4 linked regions of the Homo sapiens genome follow. The protein of the gene in region 4 interacts with the protein of the main gene of each other region in a biochemical or structural test. Each region holds a gene or a part of one and is shown on either strand. Other genes may lie near its edges. The genes, in order: SGK1, UBE2L3, UBE2D1 and NEDD4L.

Region 1 (7,039 bases), on a different chromosome or scaffold from region 4:
GTGAATAAAGTTGTAATGAACATGGAAGTGAAAATACCTCTTTGAGATCCCAATTTCTCTGATTTCCACATATTCTTTGATACTGGTCCACAAGAGAAGGAGCTTGTACCAGATGGTAAATTCATGCACTGCTTCCTTCGTCAATAGAGCTTCACAGGCCTGGCACGGTGGCTCATGCCTGTAATCCCAGCACTTTGGGAGGCCAATGTGGGCGGATTACCTGAGGTCAGAAGTTCAAGACCAGTCTGACCAACATGGCAAAACCCCATCTCTACTAAAAATACAAAAATTAGCCAGGCGTGGTGGAGCACGTCTGTAATCCCAGCTACTATTGAGGCTGAAGCAGGAGAATCACTTGAACCCAGGAGGCAGAGGTTGCAGTGAGCCGAGATGACACCATTGCACTCTAGCCTGGGCAACAAAGCGAGACTCCATCTCAACAAAGAAAAACAAAAGCCTTGTTATAAAGAGAAAATGTCGGTGAAACTAAACAATGACCTTAGTGTCATTCTTGAGTATTTTGATTATTGTTGCAATGGAAGGAATTTATCCACTAAGTAGTTGATGAAACTATAGAATATTTGCAGTAATCAAATGATCACATTACAAAATATATATAAATGGAAAAGCAGTTTTAACACTAAGATCTATATTTAACTTCATGAGAATATATTTGATTGTTTGTTTGTTTGTTTTTTTGAGACAGAGGCTCGCTTTGTCGTCCAGGCTAGAGTGCAGTGGCACGATCTCAGCTCACTGCGGCCTCTGCCTCCCGGGTTCAAGCGATTCTCCTGCCTCAGGTTCCTGAGTAGCTGGGATTACAGGCATGCGCTGCCATGCCTGACTAATTTTTGTATTTTTAGTAGAGACGGGATTTCAGCATGTTGGCCAGGTTGGTCTCGAACTCCTGACCTCAGCTGATCCGCCCGCCTCGGCCTCCCAAAGTGCTGGGATTACAGGGGTGAGCCACCACGCCTGGCCTGAGAATATATTTGAAAGCTAATATCACAGTAGTATAAAGCTGTCAAAAACATGGATCACTGCTGCTCTGTGGAACTTGTTATATGAAATCTATTAATTGTATCTGAGTACAACCACTATGGAAAACAGTATGCAGATTCCTTAAAGAACTAAAAGTAGATTTACCATTTGACCCAGCAATTCCACTACTGTGTATCTATCGAGAGGAAAAGAAATCATATACGAAAAAAACACGTGTGTGTGTATATATATATACACACACATACATGTATGTATATGCATATATACACATACATGTATGCGTATGCATACACACATACATATATATACATGCGTGTATGTGTGTATATGTATGTGTGTGTGTATATCTATATATACACATATATATGTGTATATATATATATACGCATACATGGAATACTACCCAGCCAAAAAAGAACAAAATAATAGCATTTGCAGCAACCTGGATGGAATTGGAGACCATTATTCTAAGTGAAGTAACTCAGGAATGGAAAACCAAATATCATATGTTCTCACTCATAAGTGGGAGCTAAGCCATGAGGACGCAAAGGCATAAAGAGGATACAATGGACTCTGGGGACTCAAGGGGAAGGGTGACAGTGGGGCAAGAGATAAAAGACTACACACTGGGTACAGTGTACACTGCTTGGGTGTTGGGTGCACCAAAATCTCGGAGATTACCACTAAAGAACTTATCCATGTAACCATACACCATCTGTTCCCCAAAAATCTATTGAAATTTTTTTAAAAATGAAAAAATACCTGACAGAAAATGCTCAATAAATATTATTTATCATTAAAAACATGTATCTGCACTAAGAAGAGCCTCTAAGTGGACTAAATAATACATATTGCATATGTACATGTGCTGCTATTTGAGAATATAAAGATCCTGTTATGATTATAAAATAAGAATGCAGGCCAGGTGCGGTGGTTCACGCTTATAATCCCAGCACTTTGAGAGGCCGAGGTGGGCGGATCATTTGAGGTCAGGAGTTCGAGACCAGCCTGGGCAACATGGTGAAACCCCGTCTCTGCTAAAAATGCAAAAATTAGCCAGGCGTGGTGGCACACGCCTATAATCCCAGCTACTCAGGAGGCTGAGGCAGGAGAATCGCTTGAACCCAGGAGGCAGAAGTTGCAGTGAGCTGAGATTGCACCACTGCACTCCAACCTGAGCAACAGAATAAGACTGTCTCAAACAAACAAAAAAAGCATTTAAAGTGCTACTGAATTAAAAGTAGCTTTTAATTAATATGTATTTTCCCAAGCAATATGTACTAAAAGTATCATTTCTGTTATGTGGAGATTCAAACACTTTTTATGTATTGAGTGTCTACACTGATAAATTTGCTAATAATCCAGGGCCTCTTCATACGGCTGTGCAGTTTGTGCACTGCACATAGCACTGGGTGAGCTCCAGCGCCCATGTGCTAACCCAGCCATCAGCCCAGTGAAACTGCTTCATGTGTAAGGGGACCAACTGTCCCGGTTTGCCCAGGACTAAAAGGCTTCCCAGGATATGGGACTTTCAGTGCTATACCCAGCACGGTCCTGAGAAAACCACCCTAATTAGAGCACAGACATGCCATATGTACTAGTTTCAGCCTTGGAATCCTTTCTCTAGAACTATAAGCCTAAAATAGCTGAAATGATGAAGCCATTTTTATATCACTTCTTTTCTCTTTATGTTTTAAAGGTGAGAGAGCCATGTAATCATGCCAACATCCTGACCAAGCCCGATCCAAGAACCTTCTGGACTAATGATGATCCAGGTATTATTGGAAAAATACAACCTGTTTCCTGTTATGTACAGGATACATTCTGTAGTAAAGCTCTACACAAAGGCAAGGTTTGGGGGGAAATATTTTTTTGTTTGTTTGTTTTTTGTTTTTTGTTTTTCTTGAGACAGAGTCTTGCTCTGTTGCCCAGGTTGGAGGGCAGTGGCGCAATCTCAGCTCACTGCAAGCTCCGCCTCCCAGGTTCACGCCATTCTCCTGCCTCAGCCTCCCGAGTAGCTGGGACTGTAGGCGCCCGCCACCATGCCCAGCTAATTTTTTTGTATTTTTAGTAGAGATGGTGTTTCACCGTGTCAGCCAGGATGGTCTCGATCTCCTGACCTTGTGATTCGCCCGCCTCGGCCTCCCAAAGTGCTGGGATTACAGGCGTGAGCCACCGCGCCCGGCCTTGTTTATTTATTCTTACCTAACCCAACACTCGAATACACTGCAATTAATTTTTTTTTTGTTTTTTTTTTTTTTCTGGAGACGGAGTCTTGCTCTGTCGCCCAGGCTGGAGTGCGGTGGTACGATCTCGGCTCACTGCAACCTCCACCTCCAGGGTTCAAGCGATTCTCCTGCTTCAGCCCCCCAAGTAGCTGGGACTACAGGCATGAGCCACCATGCCTGGATAATTTTTGTATTTTTAATGGAGACAGGGTTTCACCATGTTAGCCAGGCTGGTCTCGAACTCCTGACCTCAGGCAATCTGCTGAGCTCGGCTTCCCAAAGTGCTAGGATTACAGGTGTGAGCCACCATACCTAGCCTTGCAATCAATTTTACCCTAAAAGTCCTTTTGTTATGTCTTCTTTTCAGTATCTAAAACGTATATACTAGATCCCTTTGTCGTTTATAAGTGTGATGATTGGGTTTTCATGTTCCTGTGTGAGATATGCCTCCTTCAAGCCTTGTTATGATGTCTGCACATTACCTGCCTGTCATTTAAAAAAAAAAAAAAAAAAAAAAAATATATATATATATATATATATATATATATATATATATATATATATCATCAGGTACAGCTTTGTGGATTGTGAAGCATATTTAAGTGTTGGGAGGAATGAGGAATGAGTCTATTTGCTGGAGTAGAAGACAGAGGAGTTGAATAAAGTGGGCAAACACATGAGTCCAAGTTTGTTTTCTAGGGCAAGGAAGAGATTTGAAAACCTAGGGTGAATCATACTTCAGAATACTTATGGGAGGGCATGTATACTTGCACTATGATATTAGGGCTGTACATCTAATCAGAATCAGAAGAATGCCACTTTATGAGATCGGAGAATATGCTTCAGGTTATATGATTAGAAATTACGCTTAGACAAAGAGTAGGGTATGTTCTCATAGCAAATAGAAGACATTTAAAAATTCTTTTTCACAAACACACATGAGCCGTGAGGCCTAATTGCACAAAGTAGACACTAGAAATAAAAGGGAAGGTGAAGCAAAAAGGAGCTAAAACAATTAAGAGAGTGATAATAGAGCTTTCACCTTTTCTAATGAAATAGGTCTAATGAAATAGAAAACTCACGCTGATATCTGATATTTGTATTATGCCTCACGCTTTTACAAGGAGTATTCACAGAAATCTAATGTAGTGTTTGCCGCAATCCCTTGAAATAGGAGAGACAGCCCTTTCCTTGTTATGCCTCTATTAGAAATGAAATAATAAGCTGAATAGGTTAGCTGACATATCCAAAGCTCGCAGCCAGAAAATACCAAGGCTAGGAGAATGGAGAGTGGACTGCCCAGTTCTATAGCACGCTTCTTAGGAAGAAGCAGCTCTCCTAGCAGAAACAGCTTGGGCTAAATCTGTGCTATAATCTGTTCTTCATAAAAGGGAGTCAGAGGCTGTGCCTATTAGCAGAAACAGGAGGACTTGAGAAGGAAAGTGAGAAACTTTCTGATGGCTTTTTTTTTTTTCAAAGACCAGACTTACGGTCTAAACATTATCAATTTCATCTGTCAAAAAATTGTTTTCTGTCTTGTTTTATTATATCTTTTGAAGAAAGAAGAAAAAACATAAAAGTGAATTAGCCTATTTATGCCATCATTTCAGTCCATCAGCAGTATACCACCACAATAAACAAGCCATCTGCTGGCTAATACTGCTAGTAAGATCTACAGCACATGTGTTATGAAGAAGCAATGTAGAATGAAACATTACCAAAGGAACATAAATGATTCTTGATGTTATGTAAAGAAAATGGAAAGGGAGGGAAATCTGTACAGGACAGGTCTAGAAAATGGTGCTTGACCAGCAGCCCTCAGGACTGCTCTATCTGTGAAGCAGCTATTCTTTATTCCTTTACTTTCTTAATAAACTTGCTTTCACTGAAAGAGAGAAAGAGAGAAACAGAGAAAGAAAGAAAGAAAGAAAAAGAAAGAAAGAAAGAAAAGGAGGGAGGGAGGGAAGGAAGGAAGGAAGAAAGAAAAGAAAGAAAGAAAAAGAAAATGTTGCTTGGACAATTTTTGAAGCCTAAATAAATTATGTTACGGGCTGGGTGTGGTGGCTCATGCCTGCAATCCCAGCACTTTGGGGGGCCAAGGTGGGTGGATCACCTGAGGTCAGGAGTTAGAGACCAGCCTGGCCAACATGGTGAAACCCCTTCTCTACTAAAAATACACAAATTAGCCGGGAGGTGTGGCACGTGCCTGTAATCCCAGCTACTTGGGAGACTGAGGCGGGAGAATCACTTGAACCCAGGAAGCAGAGGTTGCAGTAAGCCAAGATTGTGCCATTGCATTCCAGCCTGGGCAAAAAGAGTGAAATTCCATCTCAAAAAAAAAAAAAAAAGTTACAAGAAAAACTAATGCAGAACACATAGAGAAATAGGAATAGAAATATTTCAGACTTACTCTTTTTTTTTTTTTTTTTTCCTGAGATGGAGTCTTGCTCTGTCGCCCAGGCTGGAGTGCAGTGGTGCAATAGACATACTCATTTTTAAAACGTTTTTATTACTTTTCCTTCATCAGTAGTGTTACAAAGAATGGAGTGTCCCTCCTACAAGAGCTCATCTCATGAAGATCCTTCCCAGTCACCAACTTAACCAACTCATAAAGTAGGATCTATGTCTAGAGTAATTATTTATTTATTTATTTATTTATTTATTTATTTATTTATTTATTTTTTGCCTAGTTGGTCAGTCCATTACTAAGAGTGTTTTAAAATCTCCACCTCTAGTGGTAGAATTGTCTTTTGGTTCTTTTAATTCAGTCAATTTTTGCTTTATGTATTTTGAACCTCTGTTATTAGGCACATATACTTTTTTTTTTTTTTCTGAGGTGGAGTTTTGCTCTTGTTGCCCAGGCTGGAGTGCAATGGCATGATCTCGGCTCGGCTCACTGCAACCTCTGCCTCCTGGGTTCAAGCAATTCTCCTGCCTCAGCCTCCTGAGTAACTGGGATTACAGGCACATGCCATCACTCCCAGCTAATTCTTGTATTTTTAGTAGAGACGGGGTTTTGCCACGTTGTTCAGGCTGGTCTCTAACTCCTGACCTCAGGTGATCCACCCACCTCAGCCTCCCAAAGTGCTGGGATTACAGGCATGAGCCACCGTGCCCAACCACACACACATCTTTATGATTATTATTATTTCCTAATGAACTGATCATTTTATCATTAGGAAATTTCCTTCTTTATCTCTGGTAAAAGTCTTTGTTTTAAGTCTATTTCTTCTGATAGATACAGCCAGTCCAATCTTCTAAAGCCTACTTTTCACATGGCATATTTTTCTTTCCATTTTCTTTCAACCTGTGTCTTATAGTTAAGGTGCTTATCTTATAGACATCATGTGGTTAGATTTTCCTCTTAAAATCCTATCTAATGATCTCTGTTTTTTTTACTTGTGATGTTTAGCCCCTTTATACTTAATGTAATGACACAGTTAGATTTAACTTTACTGTTTTGCTATTTGTTTTCTATATGTCCCTTCTCTTCTTTGTTTGCTTATTCTTCCTTTCCTGACTTCTCTAGGATTATTTGAATAGGTTTTAGAATTTAATATTAATTTACCTGTTGACTTTCTAGTTATCCTCTTTGCATCACATTTTCAGTGGTGCTCTGAAGATTACAATAAATGACTTTATTTTTATTTTTATTTTTTTGAGACAGAGTCTCACTCTGTTGCCCAGGCTGGGGTGCAGTGGCACAATCTTGGCTCTCTGTGACCTCCACCTTCTGGGTTCAAGTAATTCTCCTGTCTCAGCCTCCCAGGTAGTGGGATTACAGGCACGTGCCACCACGCCTGGCTAAT
Region 2 (7,039 bases), on a different chromosome or scaffold from region 4:
TATTATTATTATTTTAATAAAATAGAGACGGGGTCCTGCTATATTGCCCAAGCTGGTTTTGAACTCCTAGGCTCAATCGATCCTTCCACCCCAGCCTCCCAACATGCTGGGAATATAGGTGTGAGCCACTGCACCCAGCCCCCATCTCTATTTATTTAAAAAAAAAAAAAAAAAAGGAAAGGGAAAGGGAGAAGGAAAGGGAACTAGAAATCAATAACAGAACTAGAAAACTCACAATTATGGGGAAATTAAACGTACTCTCTAACAAGCAATGGGTCAAAGAAGAAATCACAAGGGAAATTAGAAAATATCCTCAGAAAAAAAAATGACATACCAAAACTTAAGTTATGCAGCAAAAGTAGTGCTCAAAGGGAATCTACAGCTTTAAATACCTACATTGAAAAAGCAAGTCTGAAATCAATAATCTAACTGGATATTTTAAGGAACAAAGAAAGTAATAACACAAGAAAGAAGTAAATAGTAAGCACAGAGGAGATAAATGAAAAACACACACACACACATTAATGAAACCTTCCTTGAAGAGATCAACAAAATTGAAAAAACTTTAGCTAGACTGATAAAAGGAAAAAGAGAAAAGACTCATATTATTAAAATAAGAAATGAGGCAGGGCATAGTGGTGTAATCCCAGCACTTTGGGAGGCTAAGGCAGGCGGATCACTTGAGTCTAGGAGTTCAAGACCAGCCTGTGCAATATGGCAAAACCCCATCTCTACAAAAAAAAAAAAAAAAATACAAAAATTAGCTGGGCGTGGTGGCTCATGCCTTCAGTACCAGCTACTCTGGAGGCTGAGGTGGGAGGATCGCTTGAGCCTGGGAGGTTGAGGCTGTGGTGAGCCATGATCATGCCACTGTACTCCAGCCTGGGCAACAGAACGAGAGCCTGTCTCAAAAAAAAAAAAAAAAAAAAAAAAAAAAAAAATCTACATATAAATGGATCAAAGATCCAAATTTAAGAGCTAAAACTATAAAACTCTTAGAAGAAAACTCAGGAAAATTTGCATGACCTTGGATTTGGCAACAGTGTCTTAAAAATCAAACCAAAGTATAGGCAACAAAATTAAAAATAGATAAATTGGACTTCTTTATTAAAAATTTAAGGCCAGGTGTGATGGCTCACATCTGTAAATCCCAGAGCTTTCAGAGGCTAAGCCAGGAGGACCACTTGAGCCTGGGAGTTCAAGACTAGCCTGGGCAACACAGCAAGACTCCATCTCTACAGAAAAAATAATTAAAATTAGCTGGGGGTTGCAGCATGTGCCTATAGTGCCAGCTACTTGGGAAGACTGCTTGAGCCCAGGAGTCTGGGGCTGCAGAGAGCCATTATTGAGCCACTGCACTCCAGCCTGGATGACAGAGCAAGACCCCTTCTCTAAAAATAAAAATTAAATTAAAAAATTTAAAACTTTAGTGCATCAGGCCAGGCACGGTGGCTCAAGCCTGTAATCCCAGCACTTTGGTAGGCTGAGGCGGACAGATCACTTGAGGTCAGGAGTTCGAGACCAGCCTGGCCAACATGGTAAAACCCTGTCTCTACCAAAAAATACAAAAATTAGCCAGGTGTGGTGGTGCACGCCTATAGTCCCAGCTACTCGGGAGGCTGAGGTGGGAGAATCACTTGAACCCGGGAGGCAGAGGTTGCAGTGAGACGAGACTGTGCTTCTGCATTCTGGCCTGGGCAACAGAGTGAGACCCTGTCTCAAAAAGAAACAAAAAAACAAAAAACACACCATGCAAAAACATGTTCTACATCCTTAGTATGAAGAAAACAGAAATCAAAACCACAATGAGACAGCACTACATACCAACTAGAATGGCTGTAACGTAAAAACAAAAAAAAAGTAAAATAACAAATGTTAGCAAGGATGTGGATGAACTGGAACCTTTGTAGTGGAAATTTAAGACGTTACAGGATGGGCGCAATGGCTTATGCCTATAATCCCAGCACTTTGAGAGGCTGAGATGGGTGGATCACCTGAGGTCGGGAGTTCGAGACCAGCCTGACCAACATGGAGAAACCCAGTCTCTACTAAAAGTACAAAAATTAGCCAAAATTGCTTGAACCCGGGAGATGGAGGTTGCAGAGAGCCGAGATCGCATAACTGCACTCCCCAGCCTGGGCAACAGAGCAAGGCTCTGTCTCAAAAACAAGAACAAAAATTAGCTGGGCATGGTGGTGCACACCTGCAATCCCAGCTACTCGGGAGGCTGATGTATAAGCATCACTTGAACCCAGGAGGCTGAGGTTGCAGTGAACCAAAATCACACCATTGCACTCCAGCCTGGGTGACAGAGTAAGACTGTCTCAAAAAATAAAATAAAATGGAATAAAATAAAAAGAAATTGGCTGGGTGTGGTGGCACACACCTGTAGTCCTGGCTACTCAGGAGGATTGCTTGAGCCCAGAAATTCAAGGCTGCAATGGGCCATGATCACACCACTGCACCCTAGCCTGGGTGACAGCACAAAACCCTGCCTCAAAAAACCAAAACATTATTATGAAGTTATGAAATGGTTTATTAAAAACTGCATGAAGGCCAGCGTGGTGGCTCACGCTTGTAATCCCAGCACTTTGGGAGACTGAGGAGGGTGGATCACAAGGTCAAGAGACTGAGACCATCCTGGCCAACATGGTGAAACCCCGTCTTTACTAAAAATACAAAAATTAGCGGGGTGTGGTGGTGCGCACCTGTAGTCCCAGCTACTTGGGAGGCTGAGGCAGGAGAATCGCTTGAACCCGGGAGGCGGAGGTTGCAGTGAGCCGAGATCGTGCCACTGCATAGCGACAGAGCGAGACTCCAACTCAATTAAAAAGAAAAAAAAGAAACTGCATGAAAAAAGGCTGAGAGGAAGTATGCTGAAGGTTAAGAGTAAACACATTCACTGGGCTAGAAGCTTCAAGAAGGGTGACTACCACACCTCTAGTTCCTAAAGGGCAGTACACAAAATGTAACTGAATTTCTTGATGATGTGATTATGGGTAATATTTTCTTCCTTAGACGTTACCTTAGCATCTTAGATGAAAAAAAATTACAGAAAAACAAATGTTTAAAGGGAATAGACCAGAGTTGCGTTGGCAACAATGAAGTCTCTAGGAAGTACCTCCCCAGCCTTCCCTCCCACCTGCCCTCCTCTGTGCACTACGACCAGGGCAATCGCTAGGTGGCTACCCAAGGACAGCACCACTCTCCACTAAGGACCAGGGCTGGGCTGCCATGCCTTCATCGGCCTGGCTCTACTTTTACCCCAACTGGGCAGACCTCAGGTGAGTTTGTATAGTAGATTCCCATGCTGGCCCAGCCCGTCCAATGCAGGAAGACCTAAAGCCCAGGTTGGGGTACAAGTGTGGACCCTGGGGATGTCAGATGTCAACAATGCCTTAACTGCTCTGGAGAAGGAAGAAGACTTCATTGAAACATTCCTCATACAAACCCAGGGGCCCTGGAAGAAAGCAAGGGAGAGGACCGAGAAGAAGTGGTATACACAGGGACAAGAGCAGCCCTGGCTGTTGCTTACCGTCTCCAAGGTGAAACTTTGGCCTGGATAGCTCCCCAGAGCCTCAGCCCAAGCACACTTGGATTCTACCAGCCAGCCTCCACCTTTGCCCTAGTAAGATCTTAGCCCACTGCTCCATAGCCCCTGCCAGCGTGAAACCAGAGGGAGGCCTTTGCATGAGTTGGGGCAGAGCATGCCCAGCAGCAATCTACCCGTGGAGCTGGCTAGCAGGCTCTCAGGCCACTAAATTCTCAGGGCCAGACTGCCCAAGCCTTACCACTTAAAACCATTCCATTCATTTTTATCATTTTCCAAAGAGCCACAGATTAACTGTTCATTTCTTTGCTCAGTAGACTACACAATCTCAATTAGAAAAGGGACAAGAGGTCAGATGGTCCCGGCCATCTTCAGGTCCCTAGAGTAGGCAAGGGCTGCACTCACAGGCCAACCCCTCCCATGCAGAGGTGTCTCTGCCACCCACACCCTTTGCCCTGAGCCCTAACACCATCAAGCCTAAAGAAATCTAAAGGACTCATCTTCAAAATCAGACTGGAAGCTCCCAGATTTAAACATTCTGAGCATACTAAATCATTACAAAGCATATCTTTCCTTAGTTATCCAAATGATTATGGAAATAAACTACAAATCCAATAACTGCTGATCAAATTCAGGGACTTAAAAAAAAAAAAGCATGACCTTATAACCAGCATCAAGAAGAAAGCATCTACAGGAGGGAGCATGCTCCATGCTCACCTTATAACCAGCATCAAGAAGAAAGCATCTACAGGAGGAAGCATGCTCCATGCTCACCTTATAACCAGCATCAGGAAGAAAGCATCTACAGGGAGAAATCATCTACAGGAGGAAGCATCTACAGGAGGAAGCATGCTCCATGCTCATGACCTTATAACCAGCATCAGGAAGAAGCATCTACAGGAGGAAGCATGCTCCATGCTCTGCTTTGGCAAAGCAGCCAATCCATCCATGAGAACAAATTATATACAGGACAGCGGCAGGCACAGGGCAAGGGCCAGAGGCTCAGATGTGCAAAGTGGGAATGAAAAGGAACAGAGAAGGTGAGTGGATGAGGAAGAACAGGAAAGGAGGGCACTCACGCAGGACAAGGGTGTGAGCTGAGGTAGCTGAAGGCTACACAATGACCAAGTGAGGCCGCCTGGTGGACAGATGGTGCAGCTTCCGGGGAGAAGGCAGGAATGGAGACAGGTGTGGGAATCCTTCATGTCTGGCATAATCATCTATGATGCCGAAAGTAGTAGGGTCCCGAGACAAAACAGAACAGGAGAACAGCAGGAGACCAACAAGAGTCATGTTTAAGAGTGAGGAGGAAGGAGTGGCAGAACAGGAGCGAGTGGCAGGCTGGTCACAGGACTGGGGGCTGGAATGCTGCCCGTGCTCCAAAAGCTCAGGAGGCAAGCAAGGGCCATGATGCCAGCACTGCCGAGCTAGAGGTGTGACAACAGTGGGGGCAGCCTGTGGGCTGGGTGTGACGTGGTTTCAGGAGAGTGAGAGGAAGGGGGATTGCAAACTGGAGTTAATTATAAGACAAGCCTCTTGAAGGGGAGGGGATCAAAGGATGCAGAAAAGAGTAGGCACTAAGAGGGTGCTAAGGAAAGCCATCGTTAGGAGGGCCTTGAGCCCATCAGAAGGCAGAAGACTGTGAGATGGGGGAGCTGGGCTGTGGGGGCAGACACTGGAGGCATAAGCCCCAGAAAAGACATGGGGTGAGGGGAACATGTGGGCAATTAGGAAAAGGGACTTGAGACAAATGGAAGGCACAGGTTGGAGGGGACCAGGAATAAAGCCCGAAATACAGGTATCCAAAGGGTTAGAGACATGAATGCAAAACCAAGAGAGAAAGCAAAATATCTAGAGGGGAATGCTTGTCCCCTCCTGAGGAGCTCAGAGAAGAAGGTCCTGCTGATCCATCAGGCCAGGCGCAGGGAAGTCAGGAAAGAGCAGGAGCACAGACACACTCCTTTTCTCTGTGTCTACAGATCTGCAAAGCTCAGGACTCCCTGAATTTGACAAAACGAGTGCCAAGATGTGACTCTACTCAGGACCCAAGGCTACACTCCCTACCTTATCACCCTAGAGCGACAGCCACTTCTGTGCATCTGCTGGCTGCCTAGACTAAGAGCCTACTAAGGAGCAGAAAAACAAGCCCAACAGCACACACATCACCTTAAAGAATAATCTGGTAGGAAGTGGAAGTGTTCAATACTCACAGGAACAATAAGCCCTTGCCAAGTCAATAAATTAGCTTCATCAACCTGGATGTTACGGAAGTTTTTCATCCCACATTTGCGGATTTCTTCAAGCTCCTGTTGATTGACAAAGCATAAAGGGGTGTCAAATAGGGGAAAGCACCACATATTAAGATCCCTCCTGATGCCCTCAAATTAAACCAAGTGCCAAAAATGCTAATGACAAAATTGGACAGTGAGGACTAAACTGTGCTTGGAGTGGTTAAGGAGGCATGGAGCTGCCATGGCGGTCCCCTCTGCAAGGTTGTTGCCTCTCCCCATGCCCCAGACCAAGACAAGCCCCCACCTCAGTGAACCCCCCTGAATAGGACAGGGGGAACCATGCTTCTGCAGACGTACCACCTCCTCTTTGGGTTGGTCACCATGGCTGTTTAAATCCCTCAGCACCCTGCATAGGGCAGACATGTGGCAGGAGCTATCCTGAGGTGCTCTACACCTGATACCTTCCAATCAAGATTCATTAAGCACTGATTATGCACCGGATGCTGAGAAGCTAAAGATGAATAAAACTGGGGACTGGGAACAAACCAGACACAAACGCATATCCAGTTTTCTACCCAGTGCTATAAGTGTGATTTCAGAAGGACTCCACCTCAACATGGGCACACAGCAAAGAGAACCATCCAGTCTGGGACTGGGGTGGGAGTGGGGGGGTGGGGACGGGAAACCTTCACTGAGCCTGTTTCCTCAGCTGCAAAACAGACCCAGAGTGCAGAAAAGGAAAGGGAAGCCATGTTGTGGGCAACAGGACCCCTTGCAAATATGTGGGGTTATTGTTGTATAAACAGTCAATGCAGCAAGTGCCATTTCACCCAGAAAGCACAACTTTACGACTTCAGGGTCCTGCCTGAGATGTCTTCAGAACTGTCTGTCACCTGTTTTTCAACTGTGCACCAGCCTGACATTTCCCATTGCCTCCAACATCTCAGTGAATGCCTGGCAGGCGCTATAACCCAAACCACCCAGCAATGCCCTCCTGCCAGAACACCAGCCTCGCCAACATTCCTCCACTCTGACACATGAAGTGCCACTCTACCCGCCTCAGCCCGGCCTCCCATCCAGTGGCACAAAAGCCGCCTCCACACCTGTCAGGCACCTTCTCTTCTGCAGCCCGAGCACCATCCAGCTGAGCCCTGCCTCCTTCGCCAGGCTGCTTCCTCTGGCCCAGCTCCAGCACCCTCCAGAACCTCCTTACGTGGTACTTCAACTCACAGTGGCTTGGGGGCTCCCTATCAGCCCC
Region 3 (5,243 bases), on a different chromosome or scaffold from region 4:
TACAGTATTCATATAGATTCTCATATTCTTTTAAGAATCTTTCACACAGTGTAACTGTCATGCATTAGATATATGAAAGATTCTGTGTTGAAGGGTTAATTCAAGTTCATACGCTGTTTCCTGGAATGGTGTCACAAAATGGATCTCACTTGGCATATAAACTGCCAAGTCCTTATACATATAAAAGAAATGGCAAACTGCCAGATATTGAGTACTTATATTCTGACATTGGTAGCCTTTTATAAAGAATCAGTAGTGTTAGATTCTGGAAACCATCCTGTGAGAAATGAAACAGCCTCAGTTTCCTTATAAGTAAAATGGGGATTCTTATAGTGTTACCATACAGGGTTGCTATGTACCTAGCACATAGTGGGCACTTACATGAATGTTAACTGTTACCCTTTTCCTTACCTTAAAGGATAGACATGGTTTGTGTGCATGATAGTGAAACTGGGGCAAATGGCTCCTGGCAGTAGGGGTGAGCAGAGGAGGAACTTCCTTCTTGCTTACTTTTTTATAAGATAGATCATACCTTGCTCATTTGTTTGTATATTTTTTACTTTGCTATATTTTTTTAAATTTTTAATTTGTTTATCTTAAAAGATTGTTTTTTAATTAAATATAGACAGAGTCTTGCTGTGTTGCCCAGGCTGGTCTCAAACTCCTGGCCTCAAGTGATCCTCCTGCCTTGGTCTCCCAAAGTGCTGGGATTATAGGTGTGAGCAACCTTGCCCAGCTTATTATTTTTATTTTTTTATTTTTTGAGATGCAGTTGCTGTGTTGCCCAGGCTGGTCTCGAACTCCTAAGCTCAAGGATTCTTCCACCTCAGCCTCCCAAGTAGCTGGCATTATAGGCACATACCACCATTGCCTGGAGCTTTTCCATATTTTAAATGTCTTCTTTTGCTTTTTATCATGAGGTTAGTCTGGAAGCATTCTGGGGCTGTAAGTTAGCCCTGAAAATCTGCCCTGTTGGTTTAATATACAAGGCTTTTAAGTTTCATTGGGCAGATAGAAGATAAGAAAGATGAATAAAATACTAATTTTTTCTTTAGTTCATAACACCCCCCCACCCTTTGCCTGTCATTGTAAGAGTCAACTCTGCTCTATAAATCCACCTTTGGACTTGAAAGAGTACGAAAATAGAAAGGAAACGCAGTGGGGTGGGTGCAAGTGGAAATGGGAGGTTGGTCCAGAGGTTCCATGAACCTCCTCAGAAGTGGTGGCATGCAATTGAAGCAGACAAATGAGGAACCAGAGTCCTTGTTCCCTCTTATTTCAGATACTTAGATCGTTAGTGTGTGTGTGTGTGTGTGTTAGTGTAGCTATTTGCATTAGAATTTTGACATACTGGAGTAACAACTACTTTTTCAATTTTCATTTCTTTTTTAAAATATGCAAGCTATATAAAGATAGCTGTTCACATTATTTTTAAATGCATGCAATACAAATAAACTACATTAAGTAAAGATTCATTGAAAAAAATTTTACAAATTTTTCTTCTTTGTAGACAGACTATAGCTCTAAGCCAAAGCAAAAGAGTGTATGAGCACAGTATCCAAAATGGTTTGGACTGTTAACTGTAATTTGATTGTTCTGTAGAGAACTCTCAAGTTTAAAGGTTGTTAATAGCTACTTTGGAGGGTCACATTTTTTTAAATAAATGGGAACTCGGAATTTAAAACTTCAAAAGCTAAAATAATTTTATATTTTATGCATCCTATGGTAATTTTATAACTTTAAAAATTAAAGATCAATTTGCTATCAACCAAAGTAGAATAAAATATAATTTGATGTGTTCATTTTATGTTTTTTTTATAAGTACAGTATCTATATTCACTAAAATTATTTTCACATATGTAATTTGTATGAAGTAGAAGGGTTATTGTCTAATGTGATGTTCTCTTTTAAATCTAGTTTTATTGTCCATATGTTCTCTACTTTGTGATCCTAATCCAGATGACCCCTTAGTACCAGATATTGCACAAATCTATAAATCAGACAAAGAAAAGTAAGTGTTTACTTATTTTAGTTTCTGTATGGATACATTCCTATATAGTATGCCAAAACACGAATATTATCAATATGTTTTAAGTCAATTTGATTATGGTTGTTATATGTATATTGTTTATCTTTTTCCAATGGAGTAAACCTTTCTTTGAGAACTCTGTTAGACCTTTTATGATAAATCTTGTTCCTTCCCACTTACTGTTCAATAGTATATACTCTGTATTTGAAAAATAGATGTATATATTCTAGGTGATAAATTAAAAATGAAAGAATTTAATCATTGGAAAGTATTAAATATATATTGCTTATCTTCTCCAAGGAAGAGGAGTTCTCTCGTACCCATCCAAACTGACCTAATTCTCAAGCTGCTTCATCTTGCTAGTACTGTAGGTTCATTTGCAATTTGTAGATAATGCTCCTTCAGGATTGGCTTTTGTAAATTTCTGTTAGAAGCTGGTTTCTGCATTTTGATTTTTGTGTATTTGGATACATTTTCATATAGGTTGCAGAGAAATCCATGAGTTAAAAAATTATTTTTCCTGTTTTATTTCTGCATGAACCTAAGTCACATTGACCCAGTAATTGATATATGTGTGATTATTGCAATTAAGTATAAGAAGGTAGAATATATAGTTTTATTAGACAGATGCTTCTGAAATATTAATTTTGTATGTTTTTACTATATCCTTTTTGTGTATCTACAGATACAACAGACATGCAAGAGAATGGACTCAGAAATATGCAATGTAAAAATCAAAAACATTTTCATATATACCAGAGTACTGTAAAATCTAGGTTTTTTTCAACATTAGCAGTAAATTGAGCACTGTTTACTGTTTCATTGTACCATGAAACCATTTGATTTTTACCCATTTTAAATGTGTTTCTGAAGCAAGACAAAACAAACTTCCAAAAATACCCTTAAGACTGTGATGAGAGCATTTATCATTTTGTATGCATTGAGAAAGACATTTATTATGGTTTTTAAGATACTTGGACATCTGCATCTTCAGCTTACAAGATCTACAATGCAGCTGAAAAGCAACCAAATTATTTTTTGCTGAAACTAGATGTTTTTACATGAGAAATACTGTATGTGTTGTCTAAGATGTCAGTTTTATAAATCTGTATTCAGATTTCATTCTTTGTTAGCTCACTTTATAATTTGTATTTTTTTACTGTATAGACTAAATATATTCTATTTACATGTATGTCAACTCATTACTTTTTTCCTGTGAACAGTATTGAAAAACCCCAACGGCTGATAATTAAGTGAATTAACTGTGTCTCCCTTGTCTTAGGATATTCTGTAGATTGATTGCAGATTTCTTAAATCTGAAATGATCTTTACACTGTAATTCTCAGCATACTGATTATGGAGAAACACTTGTTTTGATTTTGTTATACTTGACTTAACTTTATTGCAATGTGAATTAATTGCACTGCTAAGTAGGAAGATGTGTAACTTTTATTTGTTGCTATTCACATTTGAATTTTTTCCTGTATAGGCAATATTATATTGACACCTTTTACAGATCTTACTGTAGCTTTTTCCATATAAATAAAATGCTTTTTCTACTATTTGTCTTGATTACTTAAAAAAATAAAAATATAAGTAAGGATCAAAACTCTAAAATTTTGCATGAAAATTACATCCAAATTGTGAAAATCAGATCTATTTTGTTTGCCATTAGTCACCATTAGTTATATAAATTTTATTGTTTTAGGTTAGTATCTCTTTACTAAATTGTCAGTCTATAAGATAATATATGTTGATCCCTTGCTGTAGAGGAGAATTTAGAGTAATTTGGGGTTTGTCTTGGATTATATCTAAATGGATTATTTGTTAAAAGTACTGAAATGAGTATAAGGCAGTATCACCCATCCAAAAGAAAGGTCTTTATAGACCTGCACAGTCACTAGATTAATTCATTAAAATGCCCCCACCCTGATGTAATTGACATTACATTTCTTAACATTTTAAAATCTAGAATTTCTAAAATGGAATTTAATGCCATCACAATTTGAAAAACTTTTTTTTTTTTTTTACTATAGAAGTTACAAAGGAAGTTCTAAAATTATGCCTCCCTCTGTTTTTATAAGTTGCCATCGAAAAGTGATTTAAATAAGCAGGTTATCTTTATAGATTTTAAAGAAAACTAGAAAGTTTTAATGTTTTAACTTGGGGAAAAATACATCTCTTTAATGTTTAGCATGCTTGTCAACCTTGAGTGAGTGTCATTTTTAAGAACAGTTGTAGCCCTTCTGATTATTGCAGTAGCTGTAGAAGTATGTAAGAATATGTGATGGGTGTAGTCATTAGCAAAGCATTTAAATCACTTGAGTATTTTGTCATGGTTCATTATTATTAAAGCACAAAATAACCTATTGTTAGAAAATATGTGTTTTTATAAATGAATGTAAAATAATTAAATGAATTGTGAAATGGATGTTTAAGAAAATATAGGCTTAAAAAGTAAATCTATAAAATGATGTCTTAAAACAGCCATATCATGAAAAATTCTACTTAGCTATATTATTATAAGCTACATTTGCCCTGAATTTGAACACTCAACATCACTAGATTTAAATATTTAGTATATTTTGATAGTAAAGGGTTTTGTTTCTTGAATATCTTCACTTTAAACAAAAAAAAAAAACAACTTTCATTTGTGTGGCATTTATTTTTGGAAGTGTCTTCTTTTTTTTCTTTATTAAAGTTTTTGAAACTTGCCTAACTTGTTTGCCTTTGCTTACATCTGGATTGTACTGGACTTGAGGAGTAAGCAGAAGTTCTCATAATTAGCTAAAAACCTTGAGTTCCATAGTGGCGTCATGATCGGTCAGAACACCATTTTGGGTATATTATTTTTGCTTAACTCTAACAAGGAGAACATCAGTTACCTTTTAAAACTGTAGAATAAAAGTCAGGGCCTTTTGTGGATTAAGCATTAATTTAAGGACTTCCTTGGAGTGAGAGAAATAGGTAGTCTTTTGGGGATTTAGGATCCCACTTCTTGAAGTTGCATAGTTGAAAACCATGTTCAAATTGGATTCTGAACGCTTATAACTGCCATATACAGCAGTTACCCACATCAGTGACATGGGTTGTAAGGGGCAGCCTCACCACCATCCTCCAACTATCTCAAAAGCGTACAATTCCTGAAGTACAAGCTTTACATATATGCCTCCGTCAACCTTATTTATTAATTTTTGCATTATTTCCCTGTTTC
Region 4 (7,989 bases):
CACTCTTCTAAATAGCGGTCAAAATATCTTCATATGTGATATTCTGCAGCACACCAAGTCTGCAAACTAAGTGTACCCATATTTAATACGCCTTGGAAGAACAACCCTGCCGTTTGCTTCAGCGGGCATTCTACTTTCAGAGCCTGCTAAAATCTTCCATTGGTTTTTCTTACACATACTAATTCAGGGAGACAAAACAAGCTGTGCAAATTCAACAATTTGTCGTTAATATTCTACGAAGGCATTCCCTGATTCTCTGAAGGGCAACGTGACAGCATGAAACTGCCCATGAAAAACAAATACCAATGAAATGTGAAGTCATCAGAACTGCCCTGGCTTATTTTTTCACTGGTAGGAGAAAGTTGAAAAAGGAAGACGGCTGAGACTCATCTTGTGAAATACAATGTGTGTGGAACTAAATACTACCAGCGACATGGCAATAAATAGATAATAAAAGGTGTCTTCATCACCTCTTGCTATTTCCTATACAGCCCCAAATTCCCTTCTAGCAACATGCAGGAGTGAATCCAGTCACATGCCAACACACACTCGGACTCTGTTTACATTCCAAGCTTCACTTTCACACTAGACATCAGTTATGATGATTAGTAGTGACTCCTGTGGACAAAAGTGGCAAGATGTGCTCTAGGTAGATTCTGACACTCACTGCCAATGTAAATAAAGCACAAACAACAGTGACATTAACGTGTTTCATTTATCCAGCTGCACTTCCCAAAACACTCTTAAAATCGTTTTTTCGGGGGAGTTTTTACAAATAATCATGTTATTAAAACATTTTTTAAAAGAACCTAGGATGAAATGCAGCTGTCCTCACCCCCACCCCCCACAATACGTCAACCCAAGCAGCCCCTTTGTTTAGGAATGTCTGCGTCTCTGCAACTCAGGGCCTGCCCTCTACTGCCACTAATTAAATGGAGAAGTAGAGGATGCAAGGGAAAGCTCCTCAAAGAGAGAAGCCAGGAGGGAGAGGAGAAGCCCCCCGGGTCAATGAAACAATGCTACTGTCACCTATCCCCAGGTAGTTACACAAAACGGGAAATTATTTTACAAAAGCACAGCGAGGCAAAATAAACACACAAATCACACATTATTTGCACTGTGATCATTCTTTGATCAAATAAATACATCAAGCTTTGCCTAGCACCGCTAAGAAAAAAATTCATACCCTAAACACCCTTCCCACCCCAAAATACCTTTCATTCCACACTTACGTAGCACACAGGCACACACACACACCATGCCAGGGTAGGAGAGCCGCAGAAAGCGGAGCCATAACGCGAGCCTGTCTCAGATAATAGCCTTTCTTCCAACCCCACCCCCAACACGAGAGAAAGAGGGAACCTCTGAAAAGAAAGGAGGGAGGGGAAGAAAGAGAAATCGAGAACGCCTGAATTTCCAGGCATCAACTTTTCATGAAATGCACAACCAGGATAGGAAATACCTCCCTGCTGAGTAATGCTTCTTGGGTTGTAAAATTCACCTCTCGAAAGGGGAGCCAGACCTGAGCGCGCACCCCGCCAGATGGCAAACCACTCCTACCTGCTCCATCCAGCCTGCCTGTCACGCCGCGCCCGCGACAAGCGTCCCACCCCCCTTTTTGGCAGAGCAACATACCAATAAGAGCCGAGCGTGGCTGGTCGAGAGAGGACTAGGCAGTGATTTAGCAGGATTGTTTCAAAAGGGGGGAGTGGGAGACACGGAAGAGAGAATGAAGGTAAAAACAAAGCCCTTTCCAGTGAAACCGACCGCCTGGGAGGCGTGGCTTATTCAGTCGCTTTATTAATAAAAGAGATCAATTAAGCTTTCCTCTCCCCACCCACCCTGGAGGTGCCGGGCTTTGAATCCTCGGGAGGAAAAAATGGCAGGGCTGCAAGCTTCCTCCCCAAGTTTCCAGGAGCACCTGCCACCAGCCTTGAACACCTCCCCCACCGAGGCTCCGAAATCCACAATCCTGGCCGTAGACTTTGCAAAACGAGGGGAGGGACACACGCAGCGTGTCCCCCATTCCCGCCGGGATAAGCACGCACAGGCTTCTGAGCGCCTGCTGATCCACACAATCATGAGAGAGAAAGTTCCAGGGGGAAACGATCCGGCTTCTCCGCAGTCCCGGGTCTCCAGCCGCGCGACCCAGACGTGACATGCATCATGGACTCCCGGGCTGCAGGGGCGAGAGGCGGAAAGTTGCCCAACAGCCCCGGGAGACGCTGCTTGGAGAGGAAGAGGGAAGAGAGGCACGCATGCCCCCTCCCTCTCCTCCCGAAAGCGAGGAGCTGCGGAGTGAACCCCCAGCTCCAAGGGCGTCGCGCCGCTTTATTTACAAACAATGAGCTCGGCTTGCGGAGGGTGGGGGGTGCGGAAGGACCCAAGCTCCCCTGGATCCCGCTCCGGGGCGCTCCCGCTTTGGGGCTCCCCTGCAGACGCTGGGCACGAGCACCCCGGGGACGGCCCCTTTCCCCTCCCCCTGCCGGCGCGGGATAGGAACTCCCCGGGGAGTCCCGAGCAGGAAGGGGGTGCCACTCACCTCGTCTTCGGAAAGTCCATAGACCGGCTCCCCGAGCCCGGTCGCCATGGAGCCGGCGCCCCGCGCGGGGTCTGAGGCGCTCCCAGCGGCTGTGCTGCGGCGCGGACGGCCGGTTCTCCCCTCTGCCTCCAGGTCCCCCCGGTCCCGCACCCTACCCTGCGCACGCCCTGCCGGGTAAGCGGCCGGGCGCCGGCAGGTGAGGGTGCCCGAGAGCGCGCCCTGGACGCTGCCGGCACCGCTTCCTCCCGGAAGGCTGCGGGACCAGCGGGCGGGCGGCTCCCGAGAGCGCGCCGAGCACCGGGCGGCAGCCCCGGCGCCTCTCACTGCGCGCGGCGGCGGCGCAGACCCGGCCGGGCTTTCCCTCCCCGCGACCCGCGCCTCCCTCCCGCCCCGCCGCTCTCCGCCCCCCTCCGAGCCTCCTCTGCGCTCCCGGGGACCCGGCTCGCCCGCCTCCTCGCTAGCGCCGTCCGGGCCCCCGCTCTCTCCGCCCCCTCCTCCGCCTCCTCCCACCGGCGCCGCGAGGGTACCCTCCCCGTTCGCCGGGGCGGGCACACGCGCCCCCCAAGCCAATCACAGGCCGGGCTGGCGAGCGGGCCGCGGGCTGCGGGGGTGGCGGAGTTCAGCCCCACGCCCACCCCGGCCCGGGGCCTCCAGCGCGGCGCGGCGGGGGTCACCCGGCCGCGGGGCGGATCCGCAGGGGCGTGTACTGGCGCGCTTGGCCGGCGCCGCCGACCCTCCCTCCTCTCCCGGTTTCCCTCCGCTTTAGGGAGGGGGCGGGCTGGACGTTTGGGGGCGATAGAGGATTTTGCGAACAATAACAAAAACGCCCTGAGCGTTTCTTCCTCCCGGTGGTCTTTTTACCGAGAGCCCTGAGCTCGCTGTTAACTGTGAAAAGGGGAAAAGATGGATGTTTCTAGACCCCTTTAAATTCTTTGCGGCCCCGACGAGCAGGACTTGGCTACATTGTCAGCTCCCGGGAGCGAGCCGCCCGGCCCGGCTGCCAGCCGAGGAGAGGCTGCCCCAGTGTGGCCGCAAGTCGCCATTGCCTGTGTCAACCTTGCAGGGAACAAAACCAACATAGCGCCCGCCCCGGTTACACACCCACCCACGCGAAAACAGACAGCATGGTTCTTTGAATAAAAAGCAGTTCATTTGTGAGCCGCAACGTGAAATATCAAACTCAAGCTTAAGGTTATCCTTTGCATATGCAAATGATCGAGACGTCTTATTAGCCACCGTAGGATTCTTCCCACCACCCAGCTACCGTTTCTCTAGCAAGCAGTTCATTTAATCCTTCCGATTTATAGGACTGCAAGAGACTACTTTAAATAAGTGAAAGAAATTCGTCAGTCGACTTTTTCGGAAGCCTTTCCTTAAATTTAGATGTTAAGTGCAGTTGGGAGTTCAAAAAGAAAACAGACGCAGAACATTCCATTTGCCTTTGAAAAGGAAACGTCAAAGTGCCTACTTGGGTATTACCAGGATGCATTTAGGATTTTCATTCAAGGAAGTTCAGAGAGAACTCGCGTGACCCGAAGGAATCATATTCCTCGTTGCCAGCTACATAACTAAATATCTGCTGTTCGCCCTGCTAGTTCGTTTTCAAAAGAGCCCACCCATGCTACCTTAAGCTCTCCTTTGCCTTCCTGCAGCATGACTGGCTTAAAACCTGTGCCGTAGAATGGGTTTCCTTTGACGACTTAGCCCCATGGAGTCAACATCCTACTCAGAAGCCTTCTCTAGAAGTCTTGAGCCGTCAAGTCCACAGTACTTACAGGCCACAAAACCCCCAATGAGAACTATTTATGGAGGACTATTTAAAAGTCAGATTTCTGTCCATTCTTTCAATACTGAGGTTTTTCAACCCTTTCAAACCTCGAGTCTTTAGACCGGGCACGGTGGCTCAAACCTGTAATCCCAGCACTTTGGGAGGCTGAGGCGGGCGGATCATAAGATCGGTAGTTCAAGACCAGCTGGCCAATGTGGTGAAACTCCATCTCTACTAAAAATACAAAAATTACCCAGGCGTGGTGGCGGGCGCCTGTAATCCCAGCTACTCGGGGAGGCTGAGGCATGAGGATCCCTTGAACCTGGGAGGCGGAGGTTGCAGTGAGCCGAGACTGCGCCACTGCACTCCAGCCTGGACCACAGAGCGAGACTCCGTCTCAAAAAAAACAAAAACAAAAAAAAACAACCCTAAAGTCTTTTGATAAACAAAAGGTACACGTGCACACTCTGTCTTTCTCTCTCTCTCTCTCACACACACACACACACACACACACGCATTCTCAGATGCCCTTGCCCTAGCCTGTGACCCTCATGGATGGGAGTCAGTGCTTCTCTACCTACCCTCACTAGCCAAACCTTTGTAAAATTTGTACAGTTTATATTATAAAGGAAGAAAAGTAATTGAATAATAATGCTAGCATTTTGGGAGGCAGAGGCAGGAGGATCATTTGAGGCCAGGAGTTCGAGACCAGCCTGGGCAATATAGAGAGACCCCTGTCCCTACAAAAAAAAAAAAAAATTAAAAATTTGCCAGGTGTGGTGGCATGGGCCCATAGTCCTAGCTACTCAGGAGGCTAAGACTAGAGGTTCACTTGAGCCCAGAAGTTCAAGGTTACAGTGAGCTATGATCGTGCCATTGCACTCCAGCCTGGATGACAGAGAAAGACCCTGTGTCTCTAAATAAATAAATACATAAATAAATAATTCTTAAAATGTGCTGATAGAAAATTATAATTTCTAATTACACAGGACACGCCTTCCACATCCTGGAGGTACACAATTCCAGGCTTCGCCTTTGGGTAAGGCTATGTTATCTGGAAACTGTAGAGGGGTGTGGCAGTTTCTCTTCCTGTCTTTTATCATCTACTCCCACACACCCACCGCAACAGCCTATAGCCCTGCACTCAGGGTCATGTCCTTGTCTTTCCCTGAGGGATGGTTATTAGGAACTATAATATGAAACTTGCCATATGTCACTTATTGTGGGGTGTTTATAAAATCGTGATCCATGACATCAACATCCTCTGTGAGAAGACTAATAAACTAGACATTTATTTCAGATCTATGAAGAAAAGCTCTTTTGCTTTCAAGAAACTGGTAAGCTTTTGCATGGCAGATGACCAAAATTATTAAAACCGACTGTGTTTTTCTATCTACTTTGGCCACCAGGAAGCTCAGAACCAGTTTCATGGTCTTAAGCCATAAAAGAACCCATTAAAAAAAATCCCTTTTGTAACTATATACCAACTTTCCCCCAGTGCTGTGGTTCTCTACTCAGCATGTACATTGCAATCACCTGGGGAGCTTTCAAATAGACTAAGTGCCCGGTAACCAGCATCAGAGGCTATGATTTAATGGATTCTGACATCAGTAGTTTCAACAGCCTCCCAGGTGATGCTAATGTGCATTTAAGGCTGAGAACATCAGCTTAGTTTCCAAATTTTGCTATACATAGAAACATTTGGGAATTTTTACTACTGCTCCTCTCTGCCTCCCACTCCCAGGCGTTATGATTTAATTAGTACAGGGTGCCACATGGGCATCAGGAGCTTTAAAAGTTCCCCAGGTGATCCTAATGCACCACTGCCAAGTTTAGAGACATCTGGCCTAGATTTATATTACTATTCTTTTTTTTTTTCTTTTTCTTTTCCTTTTCCCCGAGAGACAAGTTCTTGCTCTGTTGTCCAGACTGGAGAACAGTGGCATGATCACAGCACACTGTACCCTCAAACTCCAGGACTCAAGTGATCCTCCCACCTCAGCCTCCCAAGTAGCTGGGACTACAGGAGCACACCATTGTACCGGCTAAGGTTTTTTGTTTTTTGTAGAGATGGGGTCTCCCTTGCCCAGGCTGGTCTCGAATTCTAGGCTTCAAGTGATCCTCCCACCTTGGCCTCCCAAAGTGTTAGGATTACAGGCATGAGCTACTGAGCCCAGCCTATATGCCTTTTCTTTATATATTTTCCACCACTCTGTTTTTTCATTCGTTTTTTTTCAACTTAGAGGAAATTGCATGTTATAAACACACTCAAATCTTTTGTGGAGTGAGGTAGAATATAAACAAACATACTTAGAAGACTAGCATCATCAATCAGTTTACCCATCATCTACTCTGAAGTCTCAGATTAGTAATCCAATTTCTTTTCTTTCTTTCTTTTTTTTTTTTTTTTTTTTTGAGATGGAGTCTCGCTCTGCTGCCCAGGCTGGAGTGCAGTGGCGTGATCTCGGCTCACTGCAAGCTCCGCCTCCTGGGTTCACGGCATTCTCCTGCCTCAGCCTCCCAAGCAGCTGGGACTACAGGCGCCCGCCACCACGCCCGGCTAATTTTTTGTATTTTTAGTAGAGACGGGGTTTCACCTTGTTAGTCAGGATGGTCTCGATCTCCTGACCTCGTGATCCACCTGCCTCGGCCTCCCAAAGTGCTGGGATTACAGACATGAGCCACCTAGCCCAACCTAGTAATCCAATTTCTTTGGGGGTGAGGGAGGACAACCCTTAAAGGGAACTATTCAGCAGGTGTATCAAAAGCAATGTTTCCTCCAGTCCGTTTTGCATCTACCCAACAATTACATAGAACCTTAACTTGTAGAGTCTCCTCTAGAATTCGTTTCCCTTTGTTCCCTTTGCAGGCTGCCTTTAGCATCTTAGATTTGATACTGTGGGTGTTTGGCAAATACTCTTCACTTGGATCATCAGAAATGAAAAATTAGCAGGAACAATTTTAAAGTACAATGGGTAATCACAAATAGGGAACATTTTAATGCTAAGCCTCTTTACAAATTATTGAGTTGTCTTAGCAAAACTATGTAGATCATAATCACATCTGGGAAGTACCCAAAGAAGAAGAATACATAATGTCACATGTTTAAGTTTCATATAAATAACACTCGATTTTTCTCTTCAATTTTCAGTGATGATTTGTCTTCTTTAAAAAGAAGGCCTATTAAGCAGACATTTCGAAGATGGCCACAAACCTGTAAAAACTGGTATCATCTTGGAACTCAGCACCATTCCTTGACACACAGAAATGTAACAAATTTAAGCCGTTTATGATCATATAAGAAATCTATATTATGCTTCAAATTTTTGACAAATATAGAGGTGGGTAGCAAAGAATGACTTGTAAATAGCTCATCTTTTTGTATAAAAATAGCTACATTAGGCCATTCTTGCAATGCTATTAATGAAGAAATGCCTGAGGCCAAGCACAGTGGCTCACACCTGTAATCCCAACACTTTGGGAGGCTGAAGTGGACAGATCCCTTGAGTCCAGGAGTTCGAGACCAGCTGGGCAACAAAGTGAGACCTCATCTCTAAAAACAAAAAATACAAGAATTCGCTGGGCCTGGTGGCTTGCGCCTGTAGTCTCAGCTACTCAAGGAGCTGAGGCAGGAGGGTCCCTTGAGCCTGGGAGGTTGAGGCTGAGGTGTGCCGAGATC

Evidence for each region.
Region 1: of the proteins of NEDD4L (region 4) and SGK1, one has a biochemical effect on the other in vitro, tested with the Homo sapiens proteins (5 studies listed by BioGRID).
Region 2: the proteins of NEDD4L (region 4) and UBE2L3 form a complex in vitro, tested with the Homo sapiens proteins (11 studies listed by BioGRID, with this or other methods).
Region 3: the proteins of NEDD4L (region 4) and UBE2D1 form a complex in vitro, tested with the Homo sapiens proteins (7 studies listed by BioGRID).

Annotation. Positions count from the first base shown.
Region 1 is NC_000006.12:134,203,094-134,210,132, reverse strand, and holds part of SGK1 (serine/threonine-protein kinase Sgk1), read left to right. Parts: intron 1-2,701; coding exon 2,702-2,777; intron 2,778-3,618; exon of another isoform or gene 3,619-3,722; intron 3,723-7,039. UniProt on the Homo sapiens protein: Serine/threonine-protein kinase which is involved in the regulation of a wide variety of ion channels, membrane transporters, cellular enzymes, transcription factors, neuronal excitability, cell growth, proliferation, survival, migration and apoptosis.
Region 2 is NC_000022.11:21,591,678-21,598,716, reverse strand, and holds part of UBE2L3 (ubiquitin-conjugating enzyme E2 L3), read right to left. Parts: intron 5,857-7,039; coding exon 5,761-5,856; intron 1-5,760. UniProt on the Homo sapiens protein: Ubiquitin-conjugating enzyme E2 that specifically acts with HECT-type and RBR family E3 ubiquitin-protein ligases.
Region 3 is NC_000010.11:58,366,006-58,371,248, forward strand, and holds the end of UBE2D1 (ubiquitin-conjugating enzyme E2 D1), read left to right. Parts: intron 1-1,917; coding exon 1,918-2,011; intron 2,012-2,714; coding exon 2,715-2,760; 3' UTR 2,761-4,743; downstream 4,744-5,243.
Region 4 is NC_000018.10:58,039,262-58,047,250, reverse strand, and holds the start of NEDD4L (E3 ubiquitin-protein ligase NEDD4-like), read right to left. Parts: upstream 3,026-7,989; 5' UTR 2,591-3,025; coding exon 2,543-2,590; intron 1,595-2,542; exon of another isoform or gene 1,463-1,594; intron 1,318-1,462; exon of another isoform or gene 1,233-1,317; intron 26-1,232; exon of another isoform or gene 1-25. UniProt on the Homo sapiens protein: E3 ubiquitin-protein ligase that mediates the polyubiquitination of lysine and cysteine residues on target proteins and is thereby implicated in the regulation of various signaling pathways including autophagy, innate immunity or DNA repair.